Homo sapiens: one gene and its partner. The protein of the gene in region 1 purifies or fractionates together with the protein of each later gene. This does not show direct contact. Each region holds a gene or a part of one and is shown on either strand. Other genes may lie near its edges.

Evidence for each region.
Region 2: the proteins of OR51E1 (region 1) and KIAA1549 purify together in Homo sapiens (affinity purification with mass spectrometry; one large-scale study listed by BioGRID and IntAct). This does not show direct contact.

What each region holds. Positions count from the first base shown.
Region 1 is NC_000011.10:4,642,484-4,646,876, reverse strand, and holds the start of OR51E1 (olfactory receptor 51E1), read right to left. Parts: upstream 2,896-4,393; 5' UTR 2,847-2,895; intron 1-2,846. UniProt on the Homo sapiens protein: Odorant receptor.
Region 2 is NC_000007.14:138,834,825-138,838,638, forward strand, and holds part of KIAA1549 (UPF0606 protein KIAA1549), read right to left. Parts: intron 3,337-3,814; coding exon 3,082-3,336; 3' UTR 1-3,081. UniProt on the Homo sapiens protein: May play a role in photoreceptor function.

The DNA of each region.
Region 1 (4,393 bases):
GTCTCATACCAAGGCCTATACACTTTCCCTCATTCTAGGCTGCCTTTAATTTTGCTGCACCTTCTGAAAGCTAATAAAATCCACCCAAAAGGCAAGGTATAAGAAGGGCTTGGTAAGTAGCACAGCTGCCCTGGGTATACTCTTAGAAGGGAAACCAAGAGGGCTGCAAAGAAGACTCTTCTGCACTGGAACTTGGGACACTCACCTCCTCTTTCAGCCCTAACTCCAAAGGCTGTGAGGTGGGTAGGCCCCACAATGGAGATTAAAAGGCTTGTCCTCTACCACGTATTTCCTTATTATCTAATTAGAGCCTCTCATCCACCTGTCAAGCAGATATCATTAATCCCATTTGACAGATAAGGATGTTGAGGGTTAGTTAGAGCCCTTAGTGCTAAATCCATTGCTTTACAGTAGGCCAAGCTACTGCCCTACCCCTCCCCATGTCTCCTTAAGAAGGGACTTCGCTTTGTAAGCACTATTTCAATATTAATCTCTCAGGAATCCAACACTGATGACCCATGAGTCCAGGGGCCCCTCTCGGACTCAGGACACATGACCAGCTCTCCCCACTTAGGTTCAGTGTGGAAGGAGAACCAGGAGGAGATTCATTGTCAGTGTCACTATCTGGGCTAAACACACAGAATGTTTCATGCCCAGAGCAATGGAGTGAGGGCCTCTGGCGCTGCTGTCAGCCTCTGGGAATATTTAGAAAAGAATGTCCCTGGAGAGAAGCCCAGACATACCTGGGAGCCTCTGGCTCCTCATCCCAGGCACAGAGAGGGAAGGCAGACCTCAGGGGCAATGCTGTGGCTGGCAAGGACTGGAGGAGCTTGTCACTTGATTCTTAAATAGAGTCCCTTCCCTAACACTTAGTGAGGGTAGTAGCCCCAGCATGACTTCCACTCAAATTATCTGCATCCACTGTGCCCCACACCTTGCTTGTATTTAATAAAGCAGATGAACCCTTGCAAGGTGTTGGTCACTCTTCTTAAAATGGCCAAGATGAAAATGGAAAGATGAGAGAGAGCAACTTCTAACTCCCAAAAAGCCAAGTGAGCCCTCACCCCACCCTGGTCACTCAAGTCAGCCTGACCACCTAAAATCACCCCTAGGCAGAGTTCCTAGGTTTCAGGTCTCTGCTCCTCCACTTCCTGAGTAGGACCAGATAAGTGTTCTAAAGATCTGCAAAGCTGCACCTAGTTACCAGTTCCCTGTAGAGCTATTCTGGCTGCAAGCAAATGTAAGGCAAGGGAAATGCCCAAAGTGGGATTTTGATCAGTGTACTCATTTTTTCAATAATCATTGACGGACTTCTGTGCCAGACTCCACTGAGTACCAGAGATATCGTTCCAGCCTTCCAAGGATGGGGAGAAATTGAGACAAATATGCAGCCATCACAGCACATTATGATAAATTCTGGGACAAGGGGAAGCAAAAGGGCCTCAGAAGCAAAGACAACAATAGCTCAGCAAGCTTTTTAGGTTCCAAGGGCTTCCCTGAGGAGGTGACATTTAAGCCATGGCAGTGGCGGGACCTGCTGCAGGCAGGTAATGGGGCAGTGACACAGGCAGTTAATGGGGTGGGGCACAGCAGCATTCGGTTAGACAACAAAAACATATTGAGTGTCAAAAACTGGAGATGAAACAGTAGATAAATCAGACAAGATGATGGCTTTTATGGAGCTCATATAACACGAGGCCAATAATGAGAAGTAAACAAATAAAATTTCAGTTGAAGATAAGGGCACGAAAGAAAGAGTGATAGGACAGAGGAAGATGGGTGCAGGACACTCATACTGGAGACAGGGGTCAGAAAAAGCCTCTCTTAAGGATGTGACATGTGATGAGAAAACACCAGCCATTCTAAGATCCAGGGAAAGTGCATTCCAACTGTGGGAGACAGCAAGAGAAAAGCGTCCCCCAGCAAGAATGATATTGGGGGATTCATGGAACAAAAGGAAGGTCAAGGTGGCCAGAGCATCAAGAGCACAACAGAGTTTGAGAAGATGAGGCGGGAGGAAGGCAAGGACCTCATCAGGTAACAGGGTCTTGCAGGGTATGGCAAGGAGCTTTGGTTTAATTCTGAGTGACTTGGGGGAATTTCAGCAACAGAACTTATCTAGTTTGTTTTTAAAAATACATCCTGGCTAATACAAAGAGCCAGAGAGAAAGAGAACAGACCTTGTTTGGAAAGCTGAAAGTGACTTAGTGTAGCTAGGGTAAAGAGTACAAGGCAAGGGGTGTTGCCGTGTGGACACTAATCTACTTTTTAAATGGGCTGAAGACTGAATCCTGATCCTAGACACAGACCAAGCTGAGATCGGAGCCCCAGGAAGATTACTAAGTCCCAGTCTCAGCCACAGCCTGACTCCTGATGTACAGCATACAGTGAAACCAACCTCACTCAGAGCCCCACTTCCACCCCAGCTGCAGCCTCATCCCCAGTCATAGACTGAGCTTCAACCACGTTCACCCTGTTCACACACCAAACCCCGACCCAACCCCAATGCAGCCCCAGTCTAACCCCAGCCCAGCCTGTCCTCTGTCCTCTGTCCTCATTCACATCAGCCCCTGCCAGCCTCCAGATGGGCATACTAGTAAACTAATCACTGAAAAACTGCTTGAAAACTACCCTTAGGCTACCTCCAGCACCCACATGCTTTCTGTTCAGCACACAAACCTAGAGATCACTAAGGCTGCCTGTCCTTTGAGTCAGGGGCTTCCTACACATCTCCCACTTCTGGTTCTTCACAGCCTGGCTTCTCATGCACTCAGCAAGTCTAACAGGAGACCCCTAGCTGCAAGTAACCCATGCACCTGGACATGCCCCTGGCCTCCTGCACTCACCTCAACCGTATGGAAGGAATGTGTGACCCCCTTTGTCCAGTCTTCCTCCAGAAGAGGTCTGGCAGGCTGCACTGAAATACAGCCTCTCTGTCTCCGCCTACTCCCTTGGACCTCCCTGGTCAGGGTTATTTATTCTCTGCCTCACCCTCTCCCTCCTTCTGCTTCTTCCTGCAGGGTGGGGCAGAATGCTGTCCAAAGGGTACATCAGCAGGTACCCCTCACTAGCCCACTGTGGTTCTGGACTGCTTCTCAGCTTCCGTGCCCTGGGAGGATATGCCTGGGGGTATGGGGAGGAGAGGCAATGGGGAAAGGGATCTCTAGAGTCCTCCCCTGATGGGCTGCTGGGATCCTCATGCCAACTCCCAATGTGAAGGATAGATAGGGAAAGTGAGTAGAAAAAAGCTAGAAGAAACTCATTAGTGTAGTCTTCGTGACGGTCTTTATCCAAGTCTCTTCTCAGGTTTATCAAACTCAAACAGGAGAATGGCAAAGGAAGTTTGCAGAGACACTCCACGGTTAAGTGTCAGCCCATTTCCATCCTGAAGTGTTCTTTCTGTCCTCCCTTCTCTCATTTGGGGGACACTGTTTAGGTCCTTGCTAAGCGTGGAATTCACTGGGTCCATCCTCCTTTTCCCAAAGCCCTAGGGCTACATCTTTTTTTGTCTCCCAGGCTCTGGTCCCTGTGTCTGGATAACTTATAACCAAGGTCCCCAGGGACAGTGCCTCTGCCGTCCACTCTCTGGCCTTGGATTACTGAACTTCTGGCTGAGGACAGAGAACGTGGTTTCTTTAACCCTCCCCACCCCCAACACCAGCCACGTAAGACCAATGACATCTGGTTTCTCCCTTAAGGGCAAAAATAGTCAGAGAACATTTTAGAGAGTTAGAGAACAATTTGAATGTAAAACTAAATACCTCGTATTTTGAAATAAGTAAAAACTACATCTATAAATAGAACAACATGGTTTTTAGTTGGTCTCCCCTTATTTTTTACTGATCAGTTTCACAACTGTGAGTTTTAAATTCAGAACACAGGACACGCTAAATCAAGCTATGTTAAATAGATCATGGCAAATCAGACCATTCTAACTCAGACCACATCAAAATTACTGGTGACAACAGTTTCTGGTGCCTACAGAGCACGCAGCCTGACACTTGCTATCAGAACCCTGGAGCCATCTCTGCTGCCTCCATTAACCTCATTAACTTAGACATGGCAAAGACTTTAAAAAATACCAAAGGGACTTCTACTTCCATCCAATATGGAGTAACAATGAGACATGTGGAAGGACAGTGAGACATGAGACAAGGTGAATAATGAGGTGAATGCTACAGTTTTTTCAGCTTCCTGCCTTAAGGGAGTTTCCATGCGGCAACAGAAGGGAGATTGACTGGCTTCCCCTCCACCCTTGCTTTCCCAGAGGGATTAGGAGAAACTCCCTACAACCAAGGCTTTTTTTTTTTTTTTTTTTTTGACACAGAGTCTTGCTCTGTCACCAGGCTGGAGTGCAGTGGCATGATCTCGGCTCACTGCAACCTCCACCTTG
Region 2 (3,814 bases), on another chromosome or scaffold:
AGGACATCTGCACACATGATCACATCTGATTCTCACAACTACGGTGCCTGGGAGGTGGCGGGGGAGGTCTGTTCTTGTTTGGCTTATGGGGAGAATGAAGTTCAGAGAAGGAACCAGACATGGTCAGTGAGTGACAAAGTAGTCTCTGAAAAAAAAAAAAACAACATTTCTCCAAACATTCTGACTCAAATTTACAGTTTGTGTTACCACTAGAACTTTTAAAATAGGAAAAAAGAATAGACATAAAATTCAACTGTTCATTGTAGAGTGCTTCCATAAACGGACTCCAAAGCCACACGCTGTCAACGCAAGGACCCTTCCTTTCAGTGGATGACGTGAACTTAATGTCTGAAGACCGCTAGGGTACGGTGCTGCTCACACAGCTAGTTTTTTCTGAGTTTGGTGACTGGCAAAACTGTTGTGGCAGGCGTCGAGAGGAAGCAAGTACAAACTGTGTGTGCTTTATGACCACCAGCAGAGGGCTGGTGATCCGGGGGCCTGCTCACACCACACCATAACCACCGGCTGTTTATTATACATCATCTTTGGTCTTGACATCTGTTTAAAGGTGTATTGTTTCTAAGAATAAAAATACAGTTAAAATCCCTTTATGGTAGTTTGAAAGACATCAAAATTGCTTTTACGGTCAGCCCAATTTGAAACAGAACCCTCTTTCTGCAATGCTCAAAGGAGGTTACCATTTTTAGCACACTCTATGTGCAAGCCTGTATGGCCCTGAGCGGAACTGGGTGAGAAGGGGCCATTTATCCCGTTTGCTGTCACACGATTTGAATTCATTACAAGGTGTCCATAATAAAATTCTGCTTGGATATCTGAAATTCTTAATAACATATTCAGGAAACCTGGTATTTTTGAGTGACATACAAAGATAATCGTTCAATTTGGGAGGAGTCGGGTATTAAACCAAGACCAAGAGAAATTTGGTATTAAACCAAAACCAAGACATCAAGCCCAGAAAGGGGCATTCTCTCCAATGCTCCTTGGAGCCTCTGAGGATCGCCTGATAAGATGCTGCTGGTCCTTTGTTGAACGTCCTTGAGAGACTTACTCTCCTGCACTCCTTCTCTTTCAGAGGTGCCCAGATGAAAACTGGCTACATCTTACCTTCCCAGAACCAACTTCCCTCATATTGTAAGACTCTAAATCTGTACAACAGGCTTCATTAATGAAGGGCTAAAACATGGTTTTGAAATCCAGTGATTACACTTTGGAAACCTGTTTTAGCTGTTTCAGGGGTCTTAAAACTTGACACAGATACACAGGTTTTGATCAGTCAGAGCCCCAAATTCTATAGCCCCTTATCTGTTATTTAATGAAAAGTACAGTCATGCACACATCAGGATGTTTTGGTCAATGACGGTCTACATATTGATGGTAGTCCCATAAGATTATAAAATTGTATTTTTACCATACCTTTTCTATGTTTAGCTATGTTTAGATACACAAATACTTACCATTGTGTTCAGTACAGTAACATGCTGTACAGGTTTGTAGCCTAAGAGGAATAGGCCATGCCACACAGCCCAGGTGTGTAGTAGGCTATACCATGTAGGTTGTGTAAGTACAATCTAGGATGTTGGCACAGCAACAAAACAGCCTAATGACACATTTCTCAGAATGCATCCCCATCATTAAGCGATGCATGACTGTCTTCGCTGATCTAATAAAAACAGGTTAATAGTGAAAATCTCTTAGCTAAGCCTGCTTTTCTTCTGAGTTTCACTCAGGTACCAGAAAACAGAACAGCCCTTGCCACTGTTTTCTTTACCATTATTTGGAAAGTGGGGGAAATGTTTACATCAGGAGTACATCTTAAGCGAGATGATCCCCTCTTAGCCCAAAGAGCATAAGACAATTTTAATAGCCACTCGACAGAGTAACAGCACAATAAAATCAGAAATGAGAAGCAACTCTCTCCTTTCCCTTGGGGTCTCAAAGCTCTTTTACATTTCTTGATTCATTACAGAGAGGCTGAACTGAACTCAATTTCATTTCCAGGCTCTGAACACAGGGAATGTGACTGGTAGGGATGTATGTATAACAATTTCGTGGTGCTGGGAATTATTAAATAACTTCTGCTTACAGAAGATTTCTCATTCAGACATAATTTGTGAACAAATCAACAGCAAAGTGGAAGAAAGGATCAGTTAGGACCTCTTGAAAGCCGCATTCTACAGGATCGGCCTTAGCGATCGGTGCTGAACTGGGACATGACCAGGAGTTGTGTGTGCCCAATTAAGAAACAGCAAATACAATGAAGAATGTAGATCTAAACTTTGATCTGTATTTTGGATAATCAAATAAATATAAAGCTTTTTGCCCCACTTTGGGAGGGATTTTTTTTTTCTAGAACAAAATGAAACCTTCAACATATTCTTCCACTGAAAAAGCCAAAGTTCCATTTCAGACATGAAGGTGAAGGGCCCTTGGAGCTGTAGCACCAGAAGAAGGAGGAAGAATGCGGGTGATGGCTTTGTTTGGAGTCATCAGGCTCTACAACCTATCATTTGGTTTCTCACTAGTAGCTTTTTAAAATTCCCAAACAGTCTTAGTATTCTTGTTGTTAATGTTACTATTAAAATAAGTTCCTATGGAGTAAAAGAGAAAAATTAAGCTGTTAATAAAATGTCTTCAAACCTCTTCTCAGAAAACAAAGCAGCAGGTTCATCGTACACGTACCAGTCTCAATCCCACAGAAACGCTTGGTTCCTTTCATCCCTATGCTGTCTATACAGTTTAATCTCTACCTTTAAAAAAGAGACGAATGCAGTCATTTTGTTAGCTTAGGTTTGTGTTTTGTTTTTGTGAAGTGCTGCTGGCTTTTGGCCAAAATACATATATTTCAACTGAACCCAAGTGTTCAGACAATTGCCAGCCCAGTGAAAGGCTCATGAGCTGTCACACGACGTATGGCATCTTCTAAATTGCAACTTGCTCCCTCCCTTGGGCAGGCTGCCCGAGAGTTGCTCCTTCCTCTTCCAAACACCCACTCAGTTGATTTCCTTTTGGTCTTGCTTCCACAGGAAGCGGATACTTGGCAAATCTGCGAGGCGAGGCCGATCAGCTGTGGAAGTTCTGCACGGTGCTCTGTTTCTGGGAGAGCCGGAGGAGCTCCTCGCGGATTGCTTTGATGAGAGAGGCCGAGGAGTGGCCAGGCTGGAGGTCTTCCGTGGAGCTGGTGGGGTAACCCAGCCCAGGGCCCTGCAGTCCCCGGTGGGGGAGGTTCCCGGAAGGAGCTGAGGGCTCCCTGCCTGAAGTCCTTGGCACCTGAAATAGCGGTGAAGAAGAATACTCTTGATGTCCGAGCATGTGTGTCTGAAAAACATGGCAAACGTCACTGTACTTCCTACGAAGAATAAGCCGAAACATCAAATGCAAACTGGCTTTAGGAAGGTTCCCAGGACTGCCCACGTCCATCCACCAACTCAGCCCTCTAACAGGGCCCTGCTGCCTATGCTGCAGGTGAGGCGTGAAGACACCAGGGGGCTGGGGAGAACAGAAGGGAGGGAGGCTGGAGTGCCCCATGATGTGAAAGGTCGGGTGATATCTGAGAGCTGAAGGAGGTTAAGCGGATCCATGCCAGGCTGACAAGGGGAACAGGTGCCTCTGCCCTGGACTGGAGCCTACGCAACCATCTTCTGCTTTATCTAGCTGCTGTCTGTCTCCTGTCTCTGCGTGAGTGTGTGTCTACTGAGGGCTCTGTAGAGCCTTGTCTTTAAAAACTTATCTGCACTAAAGCATAAAATAGTTTTGCTGATATTTGCCGCATAGAGATTAATTTGGCAGGAGTTTC